Linked DNA regions of Homo sapiens. The protein of the gene in region 1 interacts with the protein of each later gene in a pairwise test. Each region holds a gene or a part of one and is shown on either strand. Other genes may lie near its edges. The genes, in order: GPR37, PUM1, SCAMP4 and ZFHX2.

What was found.
Region 2: the proteins of GPR37 (region 1) and PUM1 interact in binary tests that used the Homo sapiens proteins (3 or more experiments, as listed by UniProt).
Region 3: the proteins of GPR37 (region 1) and SCAMP4 interact in binary tests that used the Homo sapiens proteins (3 or more experiments, as listed by UniProt).
Region 4: the proteins of GPR37 (region 1) and ZFHX2 interact in binary tests that used the Homo sapiens proteins (3 or more experiments, as listed by UniProt).

What each region holds. Positions count from the first base shown.
Region 1 is NC_000007.14:124,755,215-124,763,208, reverse strand, and holds part of GPR37 (prosaposin receptor GPR37 precursor), read left to right. Parts: intron 1-7,994.
Region 2 is NC_000001.11:31,055,142-31,063,135, reverse strand, and holds part of PUM1 (pumilio homolog 1), read left to right. Parts: intron 1-3,558; 5' UTR 3,559-3,569; coding exon 3,570-3,932; intron 3,933-7,994. UniProt on the Homo sapiens protein: Sequence-specific RNA-binding protein that acts as a post-transcriptional repressor by binding the 3'-UTR of mRNA targets.
Region 3 is NC_000019.10:1,921,914-1,927,022, forward strand, and holds the end of SCAMP4 (secretory carrier-associated membrane protein 4), read left to right. Parts: intron 1-1,156; coding exon 1,157-1,274; intron 1,275-2,194; coding exon 2,195-2,371; 3' UTR 2,372-4,100; downstream 4,101-5,109. UniProt on the Homo sapiens protein: Probably involved in membrane protein trafficking.
Region 4 is NC_000014.9:23,527,179-23,535,172, forward strand, and holds part of ZFHX2 (zinc finger homeobox protein 2), read right to left. Parts: coding exon 6,107-7,994; intron 5,907-6,106; coding exon 5,389-5,906; intron 5,195-5,388; exon of another isoform or gene 4,544-5,194; coding exon 4,303-4,543; exon of another isoform or gene 3,268-4,302; intron 3,017-3,267; coding exon 2,942-3,016; intron 2,907-2,941; exon of another isoform or gene 2,591-2,906; coding exon 2,532-2,590; coding exon of another isoform or gene 2,520-2,531; intron 2,487-2,519; exon of another isoform or gene 2,087-2,486; intron 1,537-2,086; exon of another isoform or gene 1,475-1,536; coding exon of another isoform or gene 1,451-1,474; intron 627-1,450; coding exon 426-626; intron 1-425. UniProt on the Homo sapiens protein: Transcriptional regulator that is critical for the regulation of pain perception and processing of noxious stimuli.

The DNA.
Region 1 (7,994 bases):
TTTGTTATGGGTGGAAAGATTGGCTATTTTAAGGGATTGACCCTAAGACTAGAAAATTTCTTGGGAAGAAGGGGGCACATCTAGTTTCCAAACTTTGGAAACAAAAATCATTTTGAGTGAAATTGCATTGTTTCATCCTACAGCTAGTGTCCTGGCCCACTATTGTGGTAGGTGGACTTTGCTCTTTAAATGGCCTCTCTTTAAACACCAGCTCTTGGAAGGGGCCCAACTGTTTTGCTGCCAGTTGTGTTTTTAGCCAGCTGGCCCTTGATTTTCTCCATTCAGACTGTCCATTTCATTTATGGAAGCAGAAGAAGGGAAACTGTAAATATTCCGCAGCCCCTGATCCTGTCTGGCACCAGGGCCTGTGACACTATGTTCAACATTGTTCCAGGCCTAAAGCTGGGGGATAAGTAAACAGAAAACAGTACCTACTTAGACGGACCAAAGCTGGAGACAGTAAATAAGACCCTCTGTTATCTTGACAGGGATCAGGTGCAGGATCATTCCATGACTATGAAATCAGCTGTTGCTGCTTTAGCAGCGTCCATGATTTCTCCTGTTGCCAAGCTTGGCGTATCTCTGAAACATCTACTTTGTTTGGTAGACAATTCATTTTTGAATTGTGAAGGAGCCAGTTGAACTCATGTTAGAGAATATGTGTCTATTTACCAAACTGCCTCTTCAAGGTCAGTTTCAAATTTCTTTTTTTCTTTTTTTTTTTTTATCAGAAGAAATTGACTTATGCAAGAAAGAGACAAAAGTATAAAGCGGACAAGAGAGGTACCTCAATGACAGAGAAGTGTATTGGCTTATCTCACTGGAAATGTACTGGACATGTAGAAATCTGTATACACTAGAGGGAAAAACAATAGGACAGAAAAAGGAAATTGGGGAAAGAAAAATAAAAACACCAAAGTTCTTGAAAGAACACCTTAAAAGAAAAGAATATCAAATTCAGGAAAGATTATAAAAACTTTGGTTAATTTAATGAGATATAAGCATTTTGAGCAATGGCATTTATTATGTACTTATTTTAATTTTCTTTTTCCGTAATTCTGAGTTTGTACAAATGTAATACTTTCTTTCATTTGTATTTCACTTTTTAATTTAATCAGCTCCTCCTTAAGAGTGCTTTGTTTTTTGCCTCTTATTATTAGTAAAATCTTTTACTTTCTGTATTTTTGCTTAACTTTTCCCCATCCTAGTAGCTTTCTCTATTTTTCAGTTATTAGTGCTAGCATTTATTTTTCTTAGAGAATCAAAGGCTTAAAAAATTCACTCATTTATTTTTTAAAATTACAGTATAATATACATTTTTACTGTTAAAATAGTGAATGAACATCTTAATATGTAGCATTTCTATATTTCTACCTAATCCTTATTACTCTGAAATAATTTTAGAATGGTTTATAAAAATAATTATTGGACAATATTGCTGGCTTCATAATTCCTGATTACTGAGAACAAGAACTACAGTCCAAATCTCAAAATAAAAGTGTGTCTCCAGGAGGCACTGATGTTTTCACAAAAGTAAGAGGTATTTAGGGTTTCTCCTACGTTGGGTTCCTGCAAAAACAGGCCCTGAGATGTAGATTTATTGGGGCATCAAGTTTATTGGGTTGTGCTCTCAGGTTCAACCTATTAAGGAAAGAAGAAAGCAGGATTGGGCGGGCAAAGGGAGAAGTTGAACTGTGATGCAATTGCCACAGAGACCTCAGCTGACACCATTAGGAGCTTTAGGGCTGGGATGGCCATGCAGCCATATCCCAAATTGAGGCAAGAGGGCTCAGCCTTTACATCTCTTTATGGACCAGTCATTAGATGTAAGACATTGGATGCAAGCCTGCTCCCAGGATGGGGTATAACCTTGAGTTGGGTGGATCTCTTTGGTCAAGGGCAATTCCTAGAGAGGGATGCAGCTAAGCACTGTCAACCAATAGCCCCAGCAGCTGGAGGAATCAGTGCTTCATTCTTGAAGGACTTTGGAGGGAGCTGTCTGGGTGGAAAACCACAGCATCCACTACAGTAGCTTTTTTTTTTTTTTTTTTTTTGAGACGGAGTCTTGCTCTGTCACCAGGCTGGAGTGCAGTGGCACGATCTCAGCTCACTGCAACCTCTGCTTCAGGGGTTCAAGCTATTCTGCCTCAGCCTCCCAAGTAACTGGGACTACGGGTGCGTGTCACCACACCCGGCTAATTTTTTTTGTATTTTTAGTAGAGATGGGCTTTCACCATGTTGGCCAGGATGGTCTTGATCTCCTGACCTTGTGATCTGCCCACCTCTGCGTCCCAAAGTTCTGGGATTACAGGCGTGAGCCACCACGCCCAGCTTACAGTAGCTTTTGAACAATCATGTTAAATCAGACATAGATAATGTTCTAATCCAACTCCCTCATTTTAAAGATGAAATTTGAAGCTCAGAGACTATCCTAAACATATATACCTGGTCAGTAGCCACCAGACCCTTGGTCTCAATGCTTCATGTTTATATTTGCTGATTAGACCAACCTGTATGAAGCACAAGCTTTATCCAGTGAGTGTTTTCTTTTCCTTTCCGCTCCTTGGCATCTGAAAAATTTTTTCTTTTTTTAATCCACTAGACAGGAAAAAATAAAAACCCGTAAACATCATTTGTTATATAATGAAATGTATAGCTTCTTTTGTTTCTCATAAACTGTCAGTAAGTTCTGCAATTGGTAGTTAATTAAAATTTTTTAAATTGCAGTAATCTGAGACAACTATACTTTTTAATTTGCCTAGCATGATGACTTTAATGACCAAAAAGTTATATAGGTTAAATTTTATGTTCTTAAAATCATGAAGTATGTTAGATTGGTGAAGGACATTACAAGTACATTACATTTGTTCAAACTTTCTCCAAATCCCCTTCCAAAATTTTGCCTCTGACCTCAAGACTTTTAAAAATTTTTTGACATCTTGTCTACTTTCATATTTCTAAATTTTGCCATTCCTTCACTTGTTACTTTCTTATTTTATTTCTTGGCTATTTTTCCTTTCTTTAACTATGTATAATACCTTCTTATAGATTTATGATGTAGCATTCACCATTTTCCAGTAAGATGTTTAACCTTTTTCAGTGTTTTTATTTTTAATTTTTTCGTAGTTAATTTTAAATTTTATTCTCAATAGATTATGATTGAATTTTATAATTTTTCTCTCCCAGCTTCTCTTTTGCTTTATTTTTCTTTTCTACCACAGTTCTTTCTCCTGTACAGCTTGAGCGTTAGCATAATCTGAAGGGAATCGTGGGATTTTGGGGAAGATTTGGGTTTGTGTAGAAAAATATGAGGTACTTCTTGAGTAAAAACTATACTTTTTCTAATTTTCATTCAACTCCTCTTTCTATTTTAATTTGTTGGCCTAAAGCTTGAGGATAGCACCCAGCTTCCAAGGTCTATTGTGAGAAAGGAAGTTTTATGATGTTTAATATTGCCGTGAGTGAGAATGTTCTGGGAACTGTTGTAGTTGATGACTTTTCCCTTTCTATTCCAGGATTATGACATCTTTATGGCCTAATAATAAATCTCATAAAGTCGAAGGACAAATGAAATGGTAGGAAATGCCAGATAGGAGAGAAGAAAATTTGGATAGATCATGGCCGTCCTCCTAGACACATCAGTTTAAAGTGGTTTATTACTTAGCCACAAGAAAAAAACTATACTCAAAACAAAACTTGTATATGTAGTGTGCTTTTATGTGTATTAGGGGAGGTGGAGATATGTGTGGGTGTGGATTGCAATAGGAGAATGGCAGAGGAGTTCTCTACCATACCTACCATTCACTTAGGAATCTAACAAGTGTTTAAAACCAAATAATTTGGGCCAGGTGTGGTGGCACACCCCTGTAATCTCAGCACTTTGGGAGGCCTATGCAGGCAGATTGCTTAAGCCCAGGAGTTCAAGATCAGCCTGGCCAACAGGGCGAAACTCCATCTTTACAAAAAATACAAAAATTAACGGGATGTGGTGGTGCATGCCTGTAGTCCCAACCATTCAGGAGGCTGGGGTAGGAGGATTTCTGGAGCCTTGGAGGTTGAAGCTGCAGTGATCCATGATCATGCCACTGCATTCCAGCCTAGGTGACAGAGTGGGACCCTGTCTCAAAAAAAAAAAAAAAAAATTCAAATAATTCAGACATCAAATATGGCAACTGGAATGAATCTTTGCTCATTATTTAATGGAAGTCAGAATCAAGGTATCATCTGACCGAGATCCCAGATAACAGATTAAGGTCTGTTTGGACATTAATTGGAGGTTTTGAATGATCGAGATTCTCTTTAGTTTAAAGAACCCACACCTTCATGGAGTGTTGTAGAACAGAAGGCTTCAAATAATTATAATGAGATAACCCCAGATCTAACTGTATTTTTATTTTACTGGGATAAAACTCCTGCACAGAGGTGGAGAGAGAATAAAGGGAACATGTCTTACCATGGCCTCTGGTCTGGGAATAATTTGTGACAAGTCTAGAATCTTTTCTAATGAGAGGAACCAGCTTCTCCAATGACTTTAGCAATACTGGTTTTAAGTTGAGTGGAACAAATGGCTCTTTCATTGCCTTAGATTGTAGCTAGCACTGACAAGAAAGAAAGGGTTTTTGGAGGTTGAAGATGACAGTGCCATACAACTATCTGAGTCTACACAGATTTCCCTAGAACGCCTGTATTCAAGTAATAGAACATTTATCATGGCATATGGTAAATTTTCTTTGAGAGGTGGATTAGTCATTAGGTATTCTGCCGGACTTTTAAGTGGAAACTTACTGTTTTATGAGCAATTTTAAAGTTACTAATAGTATTCTTAGGGAAAATGTGCTCAATATATGAGAATGGTGCTGAACAAATATTTTATGACTTCCCATTAATCTTTTAGTAATCATTTTATATATTCCCATGCAAATGAAAATATTTAGCTGATGACTCTAACAGGAAGAAAAGTGTTTCTTAGAGTGCACTTTTATTTATAACTCCATTTCTGAATGGTGTATGGTGAAGTTAACTGAATTTGGATCTTCCACAAGAAAGAAAAGTTTTATAATATTCAAATAAGAAATCCAAATAGTTTCCTTTTCCATTGATCATAATGAGAATGTGTCCTTTTCTAAAGCTTGTCAATGAAGTATAAATAGGAAAATTGATTTTTTAACTTCCCTTCTATAGATATTGTCTGGCATTCAGCTTTTAAGGATTATATATAAAACAGCAGCACCCAATAACTGATTAAAGAACAATTTGAATAATTTATTATTTTCTGTAATCCTTTTCCATAGGTGTCATCATTCGTTCATTTGTTCACCATTCATTGATTTATCAAATGTTTACCTGGCTTTTCTTCTATGCGAGGTACTATTAGGAGTGGGCAGGAGAAGGCAATACAGGAAGAGGGGGAAAAGTTTCCAAAGATGAATATCATAGATGAGCCACTGCCATTAAAATTACAGAAAAGTAAAGTAATGTTCTACACCATGATGAATATTATAATAGAGGTTTGAACAAAGCATCGTGGAAGCTCAGAAATGGCACTGAAATGGGTCAAGTCACAGTTGTGCTTGTTATGACCAGAGATGGAGAAATTAAAGGGAAAACTGTGCTCCCTCTAATTCTTTTCAGTTACATTCTTACTATTAATCTTCATAAATTTCATAAATGCCTATACAGCCTAGATCCATGATGAAAAGTTACAAATGTGAAAATCTTTTAATTCTTGCTTTTTTGTTTCCTTTAGCTTTCCCAGGATAGAAAGTCCATAATAATAATTGGCAAAATAATTCAGCAAATAGTTCAGTTCTAGAAATTTCTTTTAAAATATGGAATTTGTGCCAGTGCCTAGGATATCTATCTCTGCTTTACAATTAGTCCTTATTAGCTATAAGGACACTAAATACGTCAAAATTAAACATTTTATTTAAATGAATGGCTTATTTGGCAATGTAATAACAGTATATTAAATTGAGTCCTTTTCTTCTGAAAAAATCAAAACATATACAAATTGTTTAACTTGACCTTGGAGAACCTAAGAAAGAAGATGGACAAGGGCGATACTTTAGACTCCATTGTGGAGTCGAGGAAAGGGGAGCACGATGAATGGACTTTCTCAAGAATTGGATTAATCTCTCAAGCACATAATCAGAGTGAAGATTTATTCTGAGCTCCTGAGGGCTCCCAAGGTATCCTGCCATGTCAGCAAAGTATCCTTCCACAGAGACAAGGAGGCAAATGTGTCTGCAGAAGTAAAACAGATATGAGCTTATAAGTTTACCGAAGGCTGAGTGGGTGAGGGTCTACCTTTGCTTTCATATTTAGGCTGCATGGACCTTGATACAATTTTTACACCTTTAATGGCATTCGTCTTATGTGCGGCAACCTTTTAACAGTATCCCATTGGAAGCACATGGACCTGTGTCTGGGATGTAGATTGTGGGAGAGGGATGGGAAGGCAGCTATGCAGTGCAGTTTGTCTCTGCCTCTGCACTTCTGCTCCATCCTCCAGGGATGCGCCTGTCATTTCACTTCCCATGAATTGACCTGCCAAGGTCCAATAATGAACTCAACCTTGTTGCCAAGACTAACTCTTAAATATCCTAATTGGAATAATACTCTTTGTGCCAGAAGAGATGATCTCATCCAAAATTTCAGAGTGGAGTTGAGAATGGGATTACTGCAACGTCAAATATGGAGGGTCTTTTTTTATTTGCAGAGTAAGTGTAGGTACTTTTCATAAACTTCCATAAAACGCAGGATATGATCACTGTGTCAGTCTTGTTCTTGAGACAGAATACTTTCCATTTGTGAATTTGTAATAGTTTTCAGTGTTATCTGTCTGTACACTTGAATAGTTCATAGCATTCATTAATGAGGCCAAGGTCATTGATTTGATCCCTGCCTAGAATGAGACATTCTTATTAGGTCTGTGACTCTATTCAGGGATGTTACTTTTTTCTTTTTTTCTGTCAAAATAGCCCCTTCCTCATCAATTCCCATCTTCAGGGCCTATCTTTACTATTGTCTTCCTAATTCAAATCCTTTTTATATCGGAAAAGCATCTGATAAGCCAATTCGCATCAAGATATGCAATTTAGAAATAACTGCCTTTTATAAGAAGATTGAATCAAGAAAGAAATTTCCTTAACAGACTACCAATAGTGAAATTTTGGTTAAAAGCAGATAAATTCTGTCCTAAAATATGGTTTCTCAATTTTATTAAAATCATGATGACCTAACTATACATAATTTTGTTTTTAGTTTGAGTTCACAGTCATGCAAATCAATATCATTAGTCAGAAAGGGAAATAGGTAAAAATGTGTTACTGCTTTTTGGAAACTCATCAGAACCCCAAGGTAAGGAACTGAAATTCCAGGTCACTTTAAGATTGACTAGGAACATCATAATAATACCAAAGATTGAGAACTGGACTGTGGGCTTGGGGGAAATATTACATTTTGAAATGATTTTGTAATTACTGAGAATAAACATGGAATCTTTAGAATCTAACATAGATGGTTTATATCTTAAGACAAAATGTTGCTAATCTTGCTTCATTTACATTTTTATTTTAATAAACACCTGACAGATTGATAGGAATTATAACATGTTAGGTTGTAGTTAAATGAATTTTTTTAACCATATAAGGAATGTACTGTGCTATAGACATCATAATTGGTAACAAACCTTAATTCAAGATAGGACTATAAAGGAAAAGAGGATTTATGGAATCAAGACAAGTTTTGGGAGAATATGTTGATTTTTAAATAGTCTTAAACGGCTTTTAAAATAAGGAAAGCGTGGTATCAAGCTTAGGCAAAAGAAGAGAAGGTGGAGAATGAGGCAGTAAGGACAGTTGATAGTTGATGCTTTCAAAATATTTTTCCCCCACGGCATTGGGAATCACATGTAAATGGAATAGTCTGAGTATATTAGAAATAAATGGTTATTTATTATATGTGGGCATATCAGACTAAATATCAGTTGATAA
Region 2 (7,994 bases), on another chromosome or scaffold:
GTCTAGTATTAGTACTAAGAGAGTAATGAATTCTTTAAAAAACCAAGCAGGGAGGCATTAGGCTGGTTTGCACTTTTGAAAGACCGATGGTGAAACCGGGCTATGACTTTTTGGTTTTGGTACTTGAGCAGGGACTAGTGTCTAGGTTAGACTACTCCAGTACCCTGCTAAGGTTCTGATGGATTGGAATTCTTAACCTAGACTAGGCATTTCCAAATTAGGCTTTAAACAAATTACAAATTCCATTGTGTCTTCTTAGGCTGGCTTCAAAAACATGAATTTAGTTGTGAGAAGCAAATGCTACTTTATCAGAAGGTTTATTTATTCAACAGAGAGATAGTAGATTTGTTATTCATGTGTTTTTGAAGCATCACAGTGGGGGTTGGGAGAAGAGATAAAGCATTTGTAGCAGTAGACTGTTAGGCCGATGGCTTTGAAATTAGACCGTGGCTGTGGACAGGTGTGTCCTAATTGGTAACTGATTTATTTACTTTGTAGCTTTTTTTTTTTTTTTTTGAGATGGAGTCTCACTCTGTCGTCCAGGCTGGAGTGCAGTGCCTTGATCTCGGCTCACTGCAACCTCCGCCTCCTGGGTTCAAGCGATTCTTCTGCCTCAGTCTCCCGAGTAGCTGGGACTACAGGTGCGTGCCACCACACCTGGCTACTTTTTATATTTTTAGTAGAGACGGGGTTTCAGTATATTGGCCAGGCTGGTCTGGAATTCTGACCTGGAGATGCGCCTGCCTCCGCCTCCCAAAGTGCTGGGATTACAGGCGTAAGCCACCGTGTCCGGACACTTTGTAGCATTTTTTAAAAGCACCCACAGGCTGGCAAGTGTTCTATCTTAAGTACAGATGCAGTTTTTGGTTTTAAGGAACTTTAGTGTTTCATAGTAACATTTGAGGGATTCTTTGTTGGTCTTCCAGAGGAGTAGAGGATACAAATGAGACATATTGTTGAGTTACTCCTGCAAGGGGTTAGTAGAAAGAAGTAAGCTTGGGAACGATTAGGGTTTGAATCCTTTCTCTGCTACTTGCTAGTTGAATGGCCTTGGAAACATCCCATTTTCCTCCTGTACCTTAGTGTTTTCATTTGTAAAATAGAAATAATAATGGCTACCTTTCAATGCTTTTGTGATGAGACAATGTCTGCGATATATTCATTACACTATTACCGTGTTGAAGCTTCTGTTTGTTTGTTTGTTTTTGAGACAGGAACTCACTCTGTCGCCCAAGCGGGTGTGCAGCCTCCCGCTCCTGGGCTCAAATGATCCTCCCACCTCAGCCTCCCTAGTAGCTGGGACTATAGGCACATGCCACCATGCCTGGCTAATTATTTTTAGTAGAGATAGGTCTTGCTATGTTGCCCAGGCTGGTCTTGAACTCCTGGGCTCAAGCTGTCTGCCCACCTCAGCCTCCCAAAGTGCTGGGATTGTAGGTATGAGCCACCACACCCAACTGAGGCTTCTGGTTTGTATAGTGAGGCTTTCTTTTTTTTTTATAATTTAAAAAAATTATTTTATTTATTTATTTATTTTGAGACAGAGTCTCGCTCTGTCGCCCGGCTGGAGCACAGTGGTGCGACCTCTGCCTCCCTGGTTCAAGTGATTCTCCTGCCTCAGCCTCCCAAGTAGCTGGGATTACAGGCGCGTGCCACCAAGCCTGGCTAATTTCTGTGTTTTCAGTAGAGTCGGGGTTTCACCATGTTAGCCAGGATGGTCTTGATCTCCTGACCTCATGATCCACCCGCCTCGGCCTCCCAAAGTGCTGGGATTACAGGCATGAGCCACCGTGCCCAACCTCCATTGGCCTTCTTAGAGCCTTATTTTTTAATAAAATAATAGAGATGGGGGTCTCACTGTGTTGCCTAGGCTGGTCTTCAGCTCCTGGCTCAAGCGATTCTCCCTGCCTAAGTCTCCGAAGGTGCTGGGATGACAGGAGTGAGCCACTGTGCCCAGCCTGTAGTGAGGCTTTCTACACTAATATGAAGTGTTTAAATTTGGTTTGGTCTCATCCTGTTTATAGTAGTTGAAGTACTAATGGCATAATGTGATTACAGTTAATAGTTGTAAGTTACTGGTAAAAATATTAATGCTTTTAAAAATCAGTGACAACTGAGGAGAGGGCTTAGGCTAAAAGCATTCTGCTGCTGTTCTTGGTCAGAGGGTTTTATTGTTTCTTTAAGAAATATCCTATCAATATATTGGAGGTTTTATTTATTTATTTATTTATTATTTTTTTTTTTTTTACTGAAACAGAGTCTCGATTTGTCGCCCAGGCTGGAGTGCAGTGGTGCGATCTTGGCTCACTGCAACCTCTGCCTCCCGGGTTCAAACGATTCTCCTGCCTCAGCTTCCCAAGTAGTTGGGATTAAAAGTGTGTACCACCACACCCAGTTAATTTTTGTATTTCCAGTAGAGATGGGGTTTCATAATGTTGGCCAGGCTGGTCTCGAACTCCTGACCTCAAGTGATACACCTGCCTTGGCCTCCGAAGTGTTGGGATTATAGGCGTGAGCCACCTCGCCTGGCCAATATGTTGGACACTTTAAGGGATCCTTTCAAATTACACAATCTGAGCCATTGCTACTTATATATGGGTTTAGGCTTTTGTTTAGTTATTAGCATATGTCTGCTCCAGCTGTAAAGTTGTGATTGATTGATTGATTGATTTTTTGAGAGAGAGTCTCGCTCTGTCACCCAGGTTGGAGTACAGTGGCATGATCTCGGCTCACTGCAACCTTTGCCTTCTGGATTCAAGCCATTCTCCTGCCTCAGCCTCCCGAGTAGCTGGGATTACAGGTGCCCAGCACCATACCTGGCTAATTTTTATATTTTTAGTAGAGATGGGGTTTCACCATGTTGGCCAGGCTGGTCTTGAACTCCTGACGTCAGGTGATCCACCCACTTTGGCCTCCCAAAGTGCTGGGATTACAGGCATGAGCCACCACACCCGGCCGAAGTTGTGATAGTTTTAAAAAGGCTTTTGGGGCTGGGCGCGGTGGCTCACGCCTGTAATCCCAGCACTTCCGGAGGCCGAGGTGGGTAGATCACCTGAGGTCGGGAGTTCGAGACCAGCCTGGCCAACATGGTGAAACCCCGTCTTTACTAAAAATACAAAAAATTAGCCACCCGTGGTGGTGGGCGCCTGTAGTACCAGCTACTCAGGAGGCTGAGGCAGGAGAGTCGCTTGAGTCTAGGAGGCGGAGGCTGTAGTGAGCCGAGATCGCGTCATTGCACCCTAGCCTGGGCAACAGGGGCAAAACTCTTGTCTCAAAAAAAAAAAAGCTTTTGTTCATTTAAAAACTGTCAGTTGGTTTGAGGTATAAGTAAGTTGGGTAGACTGATAGAAGTCTAATTCTGTATTGCTATGTGTTGGTTAACAACATAAACTTCTCTGAAGTGGTAGTATTGAGTTCTGATCCCAATACCTTGCCAGAGTGCATGCCACCAACGACATTTATTTATTGTAAAAGACATGGGGTTCATGTTTTTATCTTAGTGTGTTTTATGTTTCAAAAGATGGAAATATTAAATATTTGTAACCTGTTTGTCCTTAGGTGTTGGTGGAATGAGCGTTGCATGTGTCTTGAAGAGAAAAGCAGTGCTTTGGCAGGACTCTTTCAGCCCCCACCTGAAACATCACCCTCAAGAACCAGCTAATCCCAACATGCCTGTTGTTTTGACATCTGGAACAGGGTCGCAAGCGCAGCCACAACCAGCTGCAAATCAGGCTCTTGCAGCTGGGACTCACTCCAGCCCTGTCCCAGGATCTATAGGAGTTGCAGGCCGTTCCCAGGACGACGCTATGGTGGACTACTTCTTTCAGAGGCAGCATGGTGAGCAGCTTGGGGGAGGAGGAAGTGGAGGAGGCGGCTATAATAATAGCAAACATCGATGGCCTACTGGGGATAACATTCATGCAGAACATCAGGTAAAAAAAAGTTCACTATTTTAGCTTTGACATTCCTTTATAATCACTGTCCACTTAGGATATCTGCTTTCAATGAATGTCTTTAAAAACTTAAATTGCTGATTTCATTTGGTACAAACAGTTACTTGTTATAAAGGTTGATCATTGTAATACTGTTACTGGGTCATTTATCATTCTGGTGCTAAATAGTAAATAGCCAATTCATTCATTCATTCATTCATTTGAGACAGAGTCTTGCTCTGTCACCCAGGCTGGAGTGTAGTCGCCTGATCTCGGCTTGATCTCGGCTCACTGCAGCTGCTGCCTCCCAGGTTCAAGCAGTTCTCCTGCCTCAGCCTCCTGAGTAGCTGGGACTACAGGTGTGCACCACCACGCCTGGCTGATTATGTATTTTCAGTAGAAACAGGGTTTCACCATGTTGTCCAGGCTGGCCTCGAACTCCTGACCTCAAGTGATCTGCCCGCTTCGGCCTCCCAAAGTGCTGGGATTACAGTTGTGAGCCACCCACGCCCGGCCTATAGAATGCATTTTTTTTTTTTTTTAAGACGGAGTCTCACTCTTTTGCCCAGGCTGGAGTGCACTGGCGCGATCTCTGCTCACTGCAAGCTCCGCCTCCCAGGTTCATGCCATTCTCCTGCCTCAGCCTCCCGAGTAGCTGGGACTACAGGTGCCCGCACCATGCCTGGCTAATTTTTTGTATTTTTTTTGGTAGAGACGGGGTTTCACTGTGTTAGCCAGGATGGTCTCTATCTCCTGACCTCGTGATCCACCCATCTCGGCCTCCCAAAGTGCTGGGATTACAGGCGTGAGCCACTGCGCCCGGCCTACAACGCATTTTTAAGAACACTTTTTTTGGAACAAAGGATTCTTTTTTTTACTGTTGACATAAGAACTGCTAGGGTTGTTTATAGGATAGATACATATTTTTGAATCTTTTCTCTTGGGTGTGGGTGACTTGATTTTAAGATGTTGTAGTTGAAAGTAGGGGGAAGTTGATAACATCAGCTGCTCAAGTGAAATTTATTTGAAATGGGACTGATATATTGTGTCAGAGAGAAGTGGTTGTGGCTTTTAGGTTTTAACCACCTTTGTCCTCTTGTTATTGTTTAATTTTTAATTTTAACATGTTCAGTCTTATTAATCTAAAACCATAGTGGGAATCATAGCATATTTTACTGAGAAGAGAGGTTAGCCTTATCCATGTTTCCTGATTTCTTGATAATGACCAACCAAAAGATTAGACTGTTTTGATCAGGGTATTCTTTGAAATTGGGTATAGGTTGAATTTGGAAAGGTTCATTTTGTGTCACCCGTCAGTACTGATTAGCGAGAACTGACATTTTTCATTAGGCTTCTAGTGCTTCTGTTTTACTTCAGAAAAAATCAGGTACAAACATACCTGCAAGTCTGATTTTATTATACTTCCTCTGATCCCCCCAAAAGTGAACCATAGTTGTTTTTTTTTTTTTTTTTTTTTTTGAGATGGAGTCTCGCTCTGTCGCCCAGGCTGGAGTGCAGTGGCACAATCTCGGCTCACTGCAACCTCCCCCTCCCAGGTTTAAGCAATTCTCCTGCCTTACCTTCCCGAGTAGCTGGGATTACAGGCACCCACCTCCATACCTGGCTAATTTTTGTATTTTTAGCAGAGAGAGGGTTTCACCATGTTGGCCGGGCTGGTCTTGAACTCCTGACCTCATGTGATCCACCTGCCTCAGCCTCCCAAAGTGCTGGGATTACGGGTGTGAGCCACCATGCCCAGCCCTTTTTTTTTTTTCTTTTTCTTTTTTTTTTTTTTTTTGAGACAAGGTCTGGCTCTGTCATCCAGGCTGGAGTGTGGTGATATGATGATATTGGCTCACTGCAACCACGGTCTCCCTGGTTCAAGCGATCCTCCCACCTCAGTCTCCTGAGTAGCTGGGACTACAGGTTTGCAACACTACACCCGGCTACTTTTGTATTTTTTGTAGAGACGGGGTTTTGCCATGTTGGCCAGGCTCTACTTTGAGCCCAGGCTCACAGTGATCCACCTGCCTTGGACTCCCAGAGTGCTGGGATTGCAAGTGTGAGCTACTGCATCTGACCAGTTCTTTACTATAGTCGAAACAAAGACAGGCTGGGTGCAGTGGCTCATGCCTGTAATCCCAGCACTTTGGGAGGCCGAGGTGGGTGGATCACCTGAGGTAAGGAGTTTGAGACCAGCCTGACCAACATGGTGAAACCCTGTCTCTACTAAAAATGCAGAAATTAGCCAGGCGTGGTGGCGCATGCTTGTAATCCCAGCTACTTGGAAGGCTGAGGCAGGAGAGTCACTTGAACCTGGGACAGGGAGTTTGCAGTGAGCTGAGATCTTGCCATTGCACTCCAGCCTAGGCAATGGGTGAAACTCCATCTCAAAAAATAAAGTAAAAAATTAGCTGGGCGTGGGGGCACATGCCTGTGTTTCCAGCTGCTTGGGAGCCTGAGGTGGAAGGATTGCTTGAGCGTGGGTGGCAGAAGTTGCAGTGAACAGAGATCATGCCACTGCACTTCAGCCTGGGCAACAGAGTGGGACCCTGTCTCAAAAAAAAAAAAAAAAAAAAAAAAAAAAAAAAAAAGAAAAGAAAAGGAAGGTTTTCAGCTGTAAGGCTGAAAGAAGGCTCACCCCTGCAATCTCAACACTTTGGGAGGTCAAGGCAGGTGGATCACCTGAGGTCAGGAGTTCAAGACCAGCCTGGCCAACATGGTGAAACCCCGTCTCTACTAATAATACAAAAAAATTAGCCTGGCATGGTGGTGCACACCTGTAATCCCAGCTCCTCGGGAGGCTGAGGCAGGAGAATCGCTTGAACCCGGGAGGTGGAGGTTGCAGTGAGCAGAGATCACACCATTGCACTCCAGCCTGAGTGACAAGAGCGAAACTCTGTCTCCAAAAAAAGAAAAAAGAAAGATTTTCTCTTTCTTTGGGATGAAGATATGCACAGAATTTGGTGATTGAATTAGAAATCTTATATCCTGGAAAGATGAAGTAATGGAGGAAAAGTACAGAGTGCCTCTGGTTTGGGACACAGTGATTACATTTGATAGGACACCTGTTGAGTTTGAGGTAGAAGCAGAATATCTGGGTGTATACTGTAGGCAGCTCTACCTGTAGCAGGAAATCAAGGTAGGAGGTATTTGATTTGGGTGGCATCTGTGTAGTGGGGCAAAAACAAACCCTGTAATCTCTGTACTATTTGGCTAAATGTTATTCAAAAATCATAAACATTGGTTTTTTAAAATCTGTAATAAAGATCTATAAGATCTTTTGTTGTGTTTCCTAATGATAGACTGATGGGTGGAAGCTGAAAGGAGAGTCAAGGTGCCTGGCAGGTTCTTTGCTAGGTGAGCAAATCAAACTCTAGGTCAGTCCTTGGCAGAGCTCTAAGATCTGATTATTGCTGTGCAAGTTAAGAAGCGTTTATTGAAGGCTTACTCAGGCCTCTGTCTTACACTGAGCCCTATCATAAGGAATCACATCTGACTTACTGAGCAGTTTTATCCAGGTCAGTTAGCAAACTTGAGTTAATAATAGTAAATGGCAAAACCTGTTTCCCACTCAGGTGGCCTAAACCAGTGACCTTGGAATTGGCATTCATCATTACAACACAATTCTTTGGGCTGGACGCATGAAATAATGAACAACGTTGGGGAACTCAGGGTAGTTGGTATATTGCAGTTGTGGACCACCCACAGGTTACTTTTCTGTAGTCATTATAGTGTATTGTACTGGTTTTAGTGTTGTTCTCACCTTCTGGACTGAACTATTCTAGATCAGAGACTTGTGTTTTTCATGCCCCTTTTCCAGGAGGTATTATGAAACTTTCGTGTTGATTGAATGAGGGAAGACGAGAGGTTCTTCAGTTTTGCGCTCAGGTAAAGGAGTGGGTCTTACAGCTCAGTCATCCTGCTGGGAAACACATGGCAACAGGTAGAGGCCACTTGATAGGCAGCTGTGCTAAGGGTAGCATAATTGAAGAGCAAAGGGGCACATCTCTAGGTGGAGAATCTCTGCCCTTATTAGCCACTGTTACGGATAGGAGGTGT
Region 3 (5,109 bases), on another chromosome or scaffold:
CAGGGACGCGGCGGGGGGTACCGCGTGTGCGTGCATATCACGCCCCGTGCATGTGTGTGCATAAGCTCCCCGGACACATCCGGGGGTGTGGGTCCTGCGGGCTGCCTGTGCACCAGGGAGGGGAGTCAGCAGGAGAGAGACTGTACGTCGTGCCTGCCTTTAAGTTCCCTGAATTTTAAACCCTGTGGTTTCATCACCTGTTAAGACAAAAATCTCAAAATGACTGTTTTCTGCCTCCTGGGTCTCAAAGGCAGGTGCAATGCCCAGAGGCTGGTCCTGCACAGAGGGACCCAGGGCGTGCTGGCCTTCCCAGTGTCCCACTGGTGGCTGATCTAAGCAGTGCTTTCCCTCGTTTTTTTATTTTGAGACAGAATCTTGCTCTGTCCCCCAGGCTGGAGAGCAACGGCACGATCTCGGCTCACTGCAGCCTCCCGCTTCAGCCTCCCAGATAGCTGGGATTACAGGCATGCGCCCTCATGCCTGGCTAATTTTTGTATTTTTAGTAGAGACGGGGTTTCACCTTGTTGGTCAGGCTGGTCTCCAGTTCCTGGCCTCAAGTGATCCGCCCGCCTCGGCCTCCCAAAGTGCTGGGACGACAGGCGTAAGCCTCTGCGCCCGGCCTCCTCATTGTTTCTAATGGTCCCTCAGTGCCCACCGGGTGATGGTGGCAGATTTTCCATCCGCATTGCTCCCGGACATGCGGATGTAGGTTTCAGCAGTTCCCATCATTAGACACAGTTGCCGTAGGCTGGGTTCTTAGTAGCAGGCTCAGTGGGGCCTTTGAGTCTTTCCATGGCTGGTGCCCGCCGGACTCACTGAGGGAAACTAATGGGGAAGCACTGGTCTCCATTCCCTGCACGCACAGCCCACTGCTGCGATGGTGAAGGGATAAGGTTGTGTTCACGCGTCGAAGTTTGTGTCCACTGCACACGCGGCTCACTGCTGCGATGGTGGAGGGATAAGGTCGTATTCACGCGTTGAAGTTGGTGCCTCTCAGTATCGCTTTATGTTTGTTGGCCACTTGGTCGTCCTTGTATGAGCTGTCCACTCCTTGTTGATTGGCCAGAGCTCTTTACATGGGGAGGACCATGGGCCGGACCATGGGCCCTCATCCAGCAGGTGTGCAGGCACCCACGCACTCTCTTGTCCCTTGCAGCGGCTGGCTGTCGGCAATTGGATTCTTCCAGTACAGCCCGGGCGCTGCCGTGGTCATGCTGCTTCCAGCCATCATGTTCTCCGTGTCGGCTGCCATGATGGCCATCGCGATCATGAAGGTGAGTCCTCGGCTTTGTGACGTCCAGCCCTTACCCCTTCTCCATGAACCTCGTCACCCAACTGTCCCAGGTGGGTGAACGTCGAGGAGCCGGGCCCTCTCCCCACGGTGTCACGCAGGCCGCACTTCATCCCCAGCAGTGAGCTGGGATGACAGCAGGAGGCACTGTCACCAGGGACACTCCCAGGGACCCAGCGCCTGGGTTCCTATGGGGCCAGTCCTGTGGCCCCCTGGGCCGGGAGTCCAGACTCCAGAGGGAAGCAGGGGTTGTGTGTAAACCGCAGTGTTTGCAGGAACAGCTGAGGCCCTGGAGCTGTCCTGTCAGTGAGGGTGGGGCCCCTTGCAGGTTCCCGGTCACAGTTTCCATCTGAAGATAGCGGAAGTGTTGAGCTGGGCTCATAACAGAAACTTTCAGTTACAGCAAAATGCTTTTTTTTTTTTTTTTTTTTTTAGACAGAGTCTCGCTCTGTCACCCAGGCTGGAGTGTAGTGGTGCGATCTCTGCTCACTGCAAGCTCCGCCTCTGGGGTTCATGCCATTCTCCTGCCTCAGCCTCCCGAGTAGCTGGGACTACAGGCGCCCGCTACCGCACCTGGCTAATTATTTTGTTTTTGTATTTTTGGTAGAGACAGGTTTTCACCGTGTTAGCCAGGATGGTCTCAATCTCCTGACCTCGTGATCCTCCCGCCTCGGCCTCCCGAAGTGCTGGGATGACAGGCGTGAGCCACCGTGCCCGGCCTATTTTTTATATTGTAGTAGAGACAGGGTTTCACCATGTTGTTTGGACTGGTCTCGAACTCCAGAGCTCAGACAGTCTGTCTGCCTCGGCCTCCCGAAGTGCTGGGATGACAGGCGTGAGTCCCCGTGCCCGGCCGCCATGCTCATTTTCTGTCTTCTGCCTCCCTGTCCTCTGTCCTTGCAGGTGCACAGGATCTACCGAGGGGCTGGCGGAAGCTTCCAGAAGGCACAGACGGAGTGGAACACGGGCACTTGGCGGAACCCACCGTCGAGGGAGGCCCAGTACAACAACTTCTCAGGCAACAGCCTGCCCGAGTACCCCACTGTGCCCAGCTACCCGGGCAGTGGCCAGTGGCCTTAGAGGGAGCCTGCCCTGCCCCCACCGCCCACCACCTCCTCCCCTTCATTCCTGCTGCTACCCCTGGTCCCGAGGGCTGGGAGTACCTGGGGCCCCATCCCCCCAGCTGGGATGGTGGAAGCCGGTGGTGGCCACGGACCGCCCCCCTCCTGCCAGGGCCACAGAACCCGTGTTCATCTCATCCGAGAGCGGAGTTCCTCACAAGCACTCCCCAGCAGCCCTTGGCCTCTGCCGTCCACAGGACGCCCTCTTGCTCCCGGAAACGTGTGGTCACCCGCCGTCCACTGCACGGCTGGTACGGCCTTGTCTTCAGGTCTCGAGGCCTGACTCCGGGGGACAGGTGGCAGCAGGTCGGCCGCCCTCCCGTCCTCCCAGAGCTGCTGGCGCTGAGGTCAGAGCGGGTCTGATGGGGAGCTCCGTCTCACCGGCCACCCGCCGTCACCATGGCAGATGCCCTTGGCCGGAACTAATAAGAGGCGTCGGGGCCAGCTTCCGGTCCCCTGCAGTGATAGAGGGCTTGGTGCCTAGCTGAGTCCTCGCTGTCCCCGCCATCCCCTGATCTGTGCGGCTCCAGCCTCGCCCCCTCCCCACGTGCACCATACCTGGGGAGTTCCTGGTCCAGGGTATCCTGGGGCCACCCTCCCTGCCTCCAAAACAGGGATCCCTGGCAGGCTGTCTTTCCACGCCCCTGAGTTCAGAGTCGGGGACCCAGGCCAGGTCGGGAGCACAGCCGCTCCCCAAACCCAGCAAACCGGCAGAGAGCCGGTTTCCCAGCAGCCGGAGCCCTGCAGGAGAGGCCTTTGTGTTTTGTTTTGTTTTGTTTTTTCTCTTTTGAGACAAGAGTTTCACTCTGTCGCCCAGGCTGGAGTGCAGTGGTGTGATCTCGGCTCACTGCAACCTCTGCCTCCCGTGTTCAAGCAGTTCTCCTGCCTCAGCCTCCCAAATAGCTGGGATTACAGTTGCCTGCCACCACGCCCAGCTAATTTTTATATTTTTAGTACAGATGGGGTTTCACCATGTTGGCCAGGCTGGTCTCGAACTCCTGACCTCAAGTGATCCACCCGCCTTGGCCTCCCAAAGTGCTGGGATAATAGGTGTCAGCCACCGCGCCCAGCCTGGAGTGGCCTTTTATGAGAGGGGACCCGTCAAATCTGTGCCTTATGGAGGGGTCCGGCAGCGGCCACAATTGTCTTGTCCCCTCACCCCCCAACTCCCCCTGGAACACCTCTCCCAGGCAAGACATTTTCACAGCACCATTCACAACGGTTGGGCCAAAAAGAAACTTTTCCTTCATCATTTCCTGCACTCGCTGACCACAACTTTGGACACCCCAGGCTGCCACCCCTCCCCACCCGTTCACCCCCAGGATGCTGTTGCTGTAGGACGCCTGCTGCCCTGGAGCCCTCCCCAGGATGTGAGCCAGTCCCCTCGCTGGTACGGAATGCCGCTGGGTGCCCGGAGGCGGCCATGGTGTCTCGATGGACGGCAGCCAGGATGGAGCACCCATGGGTCTCACGGCCATGCTTCAGGGTCTTCAGGTCCTGCCCCCGGCCAGTCTGCCAAGAGGCACCCCCTTCCCCAGCCTCTCGCCTGCACTGATGCAGACAAAATCTCACCTGGCAGGCCCAACCCCCCCCCACCCCTCCCCCGCCGTGTGTGGCCCCTCGCCGCATCGTTGGGGTTTTGTTATGTGAAAATATCCTGGAAATAAATACATGTTTCTGCACTTAGAGCCAGGGACCTGCCGCGTTTGTGCTGTGAGCATGTGTGGTTCCCCCAGGCCGTCTTCTCCCTTGGGAGACCCCTCAGCATATGGCCTCTGGCAGGATGCCCCCCTGCAGCGCCTCCTCCCACCCAGGCCCCGGGTGCCCTGTAGCCAGGTGTGCCCAGGGCTGACCCTGCCATCCTGGCCAACGTGGTGAAACCCGGCCTCTACTAAAAATACAAAAATTAGCCGGGCGCGGTGGCGGGTGCCTGTAGTTCTAGCTACTCAGGAGGCTGAGGCAGGAGAATTGCTTGAACCCGGGAGGCGGAGGTTGCCGTGAACCCAGATCGCGCCACTGCACTCCCCACCGGCTCAAAAAAAAAGGAAACTTGCACAGATGGAAAGCCAGTGTCACTGGCCCTACGTAAAAAGCAAACATCGGCCAGACGCAGTGGCTCACGCCTGTAATCCCAGCACGTTGGGAGGCCGAGGTGGGCGGATCATCTGAGGTCAGGGGTTCAAGACCAGTCTGGCCAACATAGTGAAACTCTGTCTCTACTGAAAACACAAAAAATTAGCTGGGCGTGGTGGCACACGCCTGTAATCCCAGCTACTCGGGAGGCTGAGGCAGGAGAATCGCTTGAACCTGGGAGGCAGAGGTTGCACTAAGCCAAGATTGCACCATTGCACTCCAGCCTGGGTGACAGAGTGAGACTCTGGAGAGAAAAAAAGGGGGGTTGTGGGGTGTGGTGGCTCACACCTGTAATACCAGCACTTTGGGAGGCCGAGGCAGGCAGATCACCCAAGGTCAGGAGTTCAAAACCAGCCTGGCCCACATGGTGAAACCCTGTCTCTACTAGAAATACAAAAATTAGCCAGGTGTGGTGGCAGGTGCCTGTAATCCCAGCTACTTGGGAGGCTGAGGCAGAAGAATCAGTTGAACCTGGGAGGCAGAGGTTGCTGTGAGCCAAGATAACGCCACTGCACTGCCACCTGGGTGACAGAGCAAGATTCTGTCTCAAAAAACAAACCCAGC
Region 4 (7,994 bases), on another chromosome or scaffold:
TTCCCCAAACCAGAAGTCATCATTCTTTGAGGCTACCTGGTCTGGCAGGCTGGTACCTGCTGTTCAACAACTCTTCTCAGGACTTAGTGGAGGTGAAACAGAAGCCTCTGCCTCATCTCTTAAGTAGAGGCAGCTAGACAAGCTCAGTTCTGAGTCTCCCTCTCTAAAATCCAACTTCAAATCCATGAAATGCTGCTTTTGTTGCCAACACATGCACTTGCCTGAATACTCCTGCCTCTTCCTCCCCTCCTGGATGGCCCTAACAAGGCCTTGTCGGACCGTCCTCACCCAGCCAACACACGCACTTGCCTGAATGCCCCCTGCCCCCAACACATGCACCTGCCTGAATACCCCTGCCTCTTCCTCCCCTCCTGCACAGCCCTAATAAGGTCTTGTTGTACCGTCCTCACCCAGCCTGTACTCACTACAAGCAGCAGCTTCTCAACGCACTCGGGCACCACGTTGTGAAGGTGGCTAAGGTGGAAGTGCAGGGCAGGCCGGCCCACCAGCTGTTCCTGGCACAGTGGGCATCTGTACTTGGGCTGCACTGCATGCTGGGAGAGTGTATGAGCCCTCACCTGGCTGGACTCTGGGCTCAGGAAGCTGCAGTATGGACAGCAGTATACCTGGAGGGAACATATGGGCAGTGGACGAAGTGTCAGGGAAGGATGGGACCCACCATCACATAGTCCTTTGGATGCAGCACTGGCCCGCCCCCACTCCTTTTTTTTTTTTTTTTTTTTTTTTAGATGGAGTCTGGCTCTGTCACCCAGGCCGGAGTGCAGTGACGTGATCTCGGCTCACTGCAACCTCCGCCTTCCAGGTTCAAGCAATTCTCCTGCCCTCAGCCTCCCAAGCAGCTGGGATTACAGGCGTGTGCAACCACGCCCAGCTAATTTTTGTATTTTTTAGTGGAGACAGGGTTTTGCCACATTGGCCAGGTTGGTCTTGAACTCCTGATGCCAGGTGATCTACTCATCTTGGCTTCCCAAAGTGCTGGGATTACAGGCGTGAGCCACCACGCTTGGCCTCTCACTCCTAATTGAAGAGGAACTAGCCAGATAGGAAGGCATTATAGCAGACCCAGCCTCCAGCCACAGTCCTGAGAGCTGGCTCCTCCCCACTTTCCCTTGGATTGGGACAAAGGCCTAGCTTAGGCCGCTACCTTGCACTCCTTCTTTGTCTGGCCCTCTTCCACCATCCTGGCCTCTCTGCCTTTTCTTGGTGTGTCTTTCCCAGTCTTTGCTGCCTGCCTCAACTCTCCAGCTAACAGATGGCTCTGTACCTACTGCCCCCACCTTGGATTTAGTTTTCTTCTCTTACCTATCCTATCCTGTCGTGTCTTCTCTGTGAAATGGTTCCATTTCCTCTGGGCATTTTCTGGACCCAGAGGCTCCCTTGTCCCTGCCCACTCTGCCTCTGTGAACCATCACCTGGAAAGGGGCCCTACCTGTCTGCTCAGAAGCCAGCTCATCCTCCCTCAGGCTCAGCAGCTCCCACCTTATTTTCCATCTTTCTTTTTCCTTCTTCTTTTTCCTAATGTGAATAAACACCACAGCTCCCCCAGTGGCCCAGGAAAATTCTGGCCCAGCCCTCTCAGCACATTCTCAGCCACACTTCCAGAGGGGTGAGGCTGCCAGAGGCCCCACCATCACCTGACTGCCAGACCTACCCAGCCTGCATCCAGGCTGGCACCAGTGGCACAGGCCTGTGTGTCAGGGAGGGGATGACTGTAAAGGAAGGGGATCCAGATGCTCATCTTAACGCACCTAGCCCCTGGAGCAGACATCTGGAAGAGGTCTGTTGGCGGGAGCAGGAGTTAGGAAGAAAAGATGCTGAGGACATAAGGCATTACTTCAGCTTGCAGTAATGCAGTAACACTGCGTATTGCAATAACAATAAATGTTACATATTGTAGTCCAGTTTGGAGAGCTGTGAGGCACAGGATGGCATCTCAAACCAGAGGCTGGGAATCCCCTCAGAACACAGAGCTGCCATTCCTGGGTGCTGCCTAGGTCTGAGTCCTGGGGATTTAGAGATTTGTGGCACATGCTGTCAGTGTGAATCATTTGGTTGGTGCCCCTACCCTTAGTAAGAGGATGCCAGGACAGTTCCATCCAGGCTCAGGGCGTTTTGTAGGGTAGGAACACCGGTGTCTTGTCTTTCTGCTCCTAACTAAGGGATAAAGAGCTGGGCAGTAGCTGGTTGTTTGCTTTTGCCTTTCTCCTCCCCTCCTTCCAGCATGTACCCCCACTCTTTCCTACTCTCAGCACAATTCCTTTATTCATCTTTCCCTCAAGTTCCTGCTGTCTCCCTCCTATCATCTCCCTCTGTGCTTGACCCTGCTGGGCCAGCTCTGCCCCCGAAAGTGCTGAACATGTGGAACTGGATCTGGGTGGAATTTCTTAACTGTGCTATTCTGAGTGAAATAAGTCAAAGCATGACAAAATTACGTCTGCCTTTAGAATATGAGCAGATCTCAGTAAAGCCAGGCCCCCACTTCAGCTCTTCCCAGTTACCCCAATTCTGACCGTGGTCTGGTTGGCACTGTCTCTGGAAGGGCCAGTCTTGTTTTCTGTCTCTTCTGAAGCTGAGGATGAAAGAAGAGGAGATTAAGGAACCCTGACAGCCCTCAAGATGATTTGTAGCAGAGAGCTTCCAGGGTAGGGAGTTGGGCACTAGAGAAAGGGCAGGAAACTCAGTAGATAGGTGAGGCTTGGCAAGGGCTGACTCCGGGTCAGTAGGATGGTCAGGTCTGAGTTCTCAAAGAGGGCGGAAGTGCCTAGCCTCTCGTGGCTCAGCCTCCCTTCCCCCTGATGAGCCCTTTCTTTAATCAGTTTTGCTCCTTGAGCACAGACATTGCTGGGCTCCTGGATTACTGCAAGGTCCCGTGAGCGTCTCAGAAGGTAGGAGGACTGGGGGGAAGGGAGGGAAAACTCACCCAATTGTTCTGTCTTGTTCTGGGCATCTTTCTCAGGGGTGGGTGGCTCAGCTAAGGGGGTGACAGGAGCCTTCCCTGTGTAGGATGGGGGGAGAGTCAGCTTAAAGAGGTGTGGCATCAGGGAAGGGAGGACATAGGACAGAGGAAGCAGGACAAGCAGCCAGTCAATGAAGGAGAAAATGGATGGCTCAATCAGCAGGTAGGAGAGTATGAAAAGCCAACAAAAAGAAACACCCACACAGAAGATAGAGGGAAAATTACAGTATTAGAACTGGTAGGGCCTAAGAGATCATTTTATTAAGAGTCCAGTTCCTGTCCTTTTATAGAAGTCCAGCAGTAGACAGCAGAAACAAGACCAAACTCAGCTCCCTGTCTTAAATGACCCAGGAAATGGGAAGCCCCAGAGAAATGTAGTAGGAGGGGCACTGAAGAAGGAAGCCTTGGCTGAATGGAAGCAGCTGCTGCAGTGAGCAGGAAGTGGCAGGTCTAGCTGGAAGAGGAGATTACCGCTCAAGTAAGAATTGACAGATGTGTAGGAATTTATTTTCGGTGGCAGCCTAATTAAAGTGTTAAAGTTCCTTAACTCCATTCAGCCCTGCGCCAGGATCGTTAGCTATTGATCTGGGCCCCTCCGGCACTTAACTCCAGCCAGCATATTGGCAATTCAATTAGCACCAGTCAATGCTGCGTGTTCCTGGCTCCTGCTGCCCATGCCCTCGCCCTTGCCCACCACTGGCTCTGCAAAGCCCGACGCCCATGCCCACCTCTGGCAGCCCCTTGCAGGCTCTTCTCCTGTACCCTCTGGATCAATGGTGCCTGGCTGGCTGTTCCCGGCCTCTGCTGGTACAACCTCAGCTGCCTAAGGGTGACTCTAAGCCCAGCCTTAGGGCTGAAGACCTCCTAGGAGACAGGAAGAGGCTGGGAAGCTTGTCAGGGGCCTCTTCCCATCCCTGCTGCCTTTGGATCATGCCCACAGCTCCTATCTCCTTCCAAGAAGCCCTGGCCCAGCACAAAACAGGTTCTCTCTCCTTCCTACCCAGCTCCAGCCTGCCACCCTCCAGCATTACCAGGACACTAGTCACTACTCAGAATCACTGGGTGGTTCCTCTTCACCCTCTTCCTGTTCTATGTCATCCACCCAGCAAAGCCCCTGCCCTTCTTTGCCCCTCCACTCAAGGTAGCCTCCACAGTGCCTGACACGCTCATTCTGTCTTATCCCTTCGCAGCTTCTTCCCATTTAGTATAGGTGGCCTACAGGCCCTCTTCGCCTTCCTTGTATCTCTAACTCCGCAGCCCCCCTGCTCCCCACATCCTGCTGCCCTCCCTGCCCAGCTCTTATTCTCCAGTCCCTTCTTCCTCACCGGGAGTCCGGAGCTGCCCGTGGCTGAAGCTCAGGATGCTCTGAAGAGCTGCGAGTCCTTCCTCAGTGGTTGGGCCATTCTGTAGCAGCTGCAGACGCCTCTGGGCCTGGGCATCGCGGTGGGCAGGTGTGCGCAGGTGTTGCAGCACAGCCAAGCGGGAGGGTGTCTCCCACGCACACAACAGGCAGTGGTATAGCCCCAGCTCTGCCCCTGCCTCCGCTCCCTCCATGTCCAGCAGAAACTAGAACCATGGGAAGAGGCTGGCTCAGGCCCAGAAGGGACATGCCAGACCTCAGGGGACTTTTTTTTTTTTTCTAGAGAGAGTCTTGCCCTGTTGCCCAGGCTGGAGTGCAGTGGCATGATCTCTACTCACTGAAGCCTCTACCTCCTGGGTTCAGTGATTCTCATGCCTCAGCCTCCCGAGTAGCTGGGATTACAGGCATGCGCACCACACCTGGCTAATTTTTGTATTTTTAGTACAGATGGGGTTTCACCATGTTGGCCAGGCTGGTCTCGAACTCCTGACTTCAAGTGATCCTCCCGCCTCGGCCTCCCAAAGTGCCGGGACTACAGGCGTGAGCCACCGCACCTAGCCTCAGGGGACTTCTTTGCCTTCCCTAAGGGAGACTGACTAGCAGCAGCCCCCTCCCCACCCCTCGCTTCCTGCTCCTGAAACCCCCCCTTTCCCTCCTATGGCCACCTAAGTATTATTGCTTGCTCTCCCCAACCCTTTCTCTTTCTCCTACCACTCCTGGACTCCCTCCCAGCATGCAAATGGAGTCTGGTTCCATCCTCTTGAACCTCTGGTGACATGACAAACTGAGCTGATACCACCCCTCCCTCCAGGGCCAAACACCAGAAGAGCTGAATAAAGTCTGTTTCACTTGTCAGAGTTTACTATCCTTTGGTCTCTTTCTCCATGTCTGTCACTTTGTTACCCTGGTACATATGTCATTACCTGGTGCATACTTTCCTTTTTCTCCATTTGTCACCCAGGGTTTTCCTATCACTTTCTTATTCTGCATCTCCTCCCTCTGTCCCCATTCCCTTCTCCTCTTCCGATGGCCCTTCCTGACCCAGCCTCACCTTATAGATTTGGCTGTTTTCTTCGTGGGCTGCACCCCTGGCATGCAGCTGCATCTTCTCCTTGCTGTTGGACTCAAAGTCACAGATGTTGCAGCGCAGGTGTAGTGGGGAGACAGACCCATAAGGAGCCCCATCTCCCAGGGATGCTGGGGAAGGGGTGCCCATGGCTCCACCCCCCTCCCGCAGGTGGGCTGCCAGCTGGTACTTCTGAGCATGTTTGTCAGTCTTGAGGTGGAGTTGGAAGTTGGCCTTGAGCTGGGTGCCATAGCAGCAAAGCTTGCAGCGGTGGGTGTCACCAGCCACCTCCTTCCATTCAGCTTCCGGGAGGCTCCGGCCTATGCTGCAGTGGTAGAGCAGCAGCTCCAGGCTGTCTGTGCTGAAGGCCTGGCACACTAGGCAGCGGAACACCTTCAGGGACAGGCTGTCGTCTGGGGGTGGTGAGGTGGGCAGGCTGTCAGATGAGGAACCCAGGAGCTGACTTGGAGGCAGGTGGGCATCAGGGGATAGGCTTCCAGGGGCTAGAGGACAGAGACAGATTAGTGGCCCAAGAAAGAAATGGGGCACGGTTGGTTCTCTATGTGGGGAGGTGGGTTAATGAGTAGGATAGTGCTCAGAGGGACTTATGGTTACCTAAGTGGGGAGTTGGTCCTTGGGAGAAAGCACGGAATAGAGTTTGGCCCTGGGGAGGAGAGAAGAGGGAAGAAGCACAGAAGCTTACCGGATGTGGGGAACTTGCGGGCAGGTGCTCCTACGTGGTGGAAACCATTGAGAAGTAGCTGGGCTTCCAGGGGCTTGTCTGGCCTCAGCCCCGGGCCAGCCAAGGGAGTCTGAGGCTGCCCTAGGGCCTGGGGCCCAAAGTACTGGAAGAGTTCAGGGGGGCTAGTGGGGGTAGCCCCTGGTGGGGGAGGAGGGCCTGGCCCCATCAATCCAGGTGGCAGGCCCAGCGGCAGCCCCTGGTGCAGCATTAGGACATTCTGCATGTGCTTCTCAGAGGTCATATGGATGCGCAGGTTACGGGAGATGTTTGTCTCGTAGCTGCACACCTTGCACTGCCAGGATGATTTGGTCTTAGGCTCTTTGTCTCCCGCGGAGGGTGGGAGTGATGCCTCTGGTGGACTTCCCTGCCCACCAGGGCCCGCCTGGAAGCCCTGTAGGTTGGCCAGGTGCTTGTCAGACTGCATATGGATGCTGAGGTTGCCTTTGGTGGTTGTAGAGTAGTTGCAGACGTCACAGCGGTAGGGTTTGTAGCCACAGTTGTAGCTCTCTCCACGAGCAAGGCGGGGGTGGGCGCCCCCAGCACTGCAGTAGCTGCAGTGACTGTTGCTCTCAGGGTGCTTCTCTCGCATGTGCACATCCAGGGTCTGCTGGTACTTGTAGTGCCAGTTGCACTTGGGACACTTGAGTGTCTTGCAGGAGTTGCGTGAGTGGAGCAGGGACATGTGGCTGGACAGGCTGAGGCCCTGGAAGGCTGCAGGGGCTGGGGTGTAGTCATCAGCTAGGCGATAGGGCTGGGGTGGGTCACTGGGGTCTTCGGGGGAGCCCACTGGGGCAGGGAGAGTGCCCCCCTCCTTGGAGGTGGGTGAGCTTTGGTTGAGTGGGGGGCAGAGCCCTCCATCCTCTTCTTGCCCCTCAGGGAACCAATCTGGCCCTGCCTCGCCTGCTGCTACTGGCGATTCTTTGGCTTGGGTTGGGCTGGGGTCCCAGGTGGCTGTGGGTGGAGAGGGTGGGCTGAGGGCCATAACTTCTTCATCCAGGAGGATAAGGGCCTGGACTTCTGCCTCAGGGGGGCCATCCTCTGTCTGGGCCACATTCGCCTCCATGTTCACTGTGCTGCTGTTGTCAAGGGGTATGTCAGAAGAGGGGCGAGCAGGGAGTTTTGGCTCCAGAAAGCTTATGAGGGCCTTGCAGCCTTCATCTCCCTCCTGGAGTACAGCTGGGCTACCTGACAGGCCCTGATATTGGGCAGGGGTTAGCTTCACCCCATGAGACTGTGTGTGATCCATAAAGGCCTGGGGCTTGCTGAAACCCAGGCGGCACAGAAGGCAGAGCCAGAAGACCGCCACGTGGTTGCCCCCGCTGTTCCCCATGGGGCCATCTTTGGGATCTCCGGGTGGATTTGGAGCCAGCTGGTAGCTCCAGAAAGCTCCATGCCTTTCCTCACAGGCAGCCGGAGATGGTGCTGAGGTATCATGGGACAGAATTTGGTCAGAAGAGCTAAAGCCTTGGATTGGGTCAAAGCCATGTTGGATGTGAAGGGCAGTGAGGTGTGAGGGGGGTGGGTAGGCAAGGAAGGGCAGACTGGGCTCTTCCTTGATGCCCGCCTCACCCCAGGGGAAGCCCTTTGGTAACAGGAGTTCACTGCCACCTGGCAGGGACAGCTTGGCCACTAGGTAGGCCTCACCTCCAGCTGTGAAGAATAAGTGGTTGCTTAGGTCCATGGGAGGGAGCCCTTCTTCTTCCTCCTCCTGCTCCTTGTCCTTTTCCACCCCTGGGTCATTTGGTGGGAAGTGACCACAGTCAGGCCCTTCCTGGGGCTCCCCAATCTCCTTTGGTGGGACGAGGCCACAGCCCGACTCCAGGAGCTGTCCCCCTGGCTCTGAGGACCT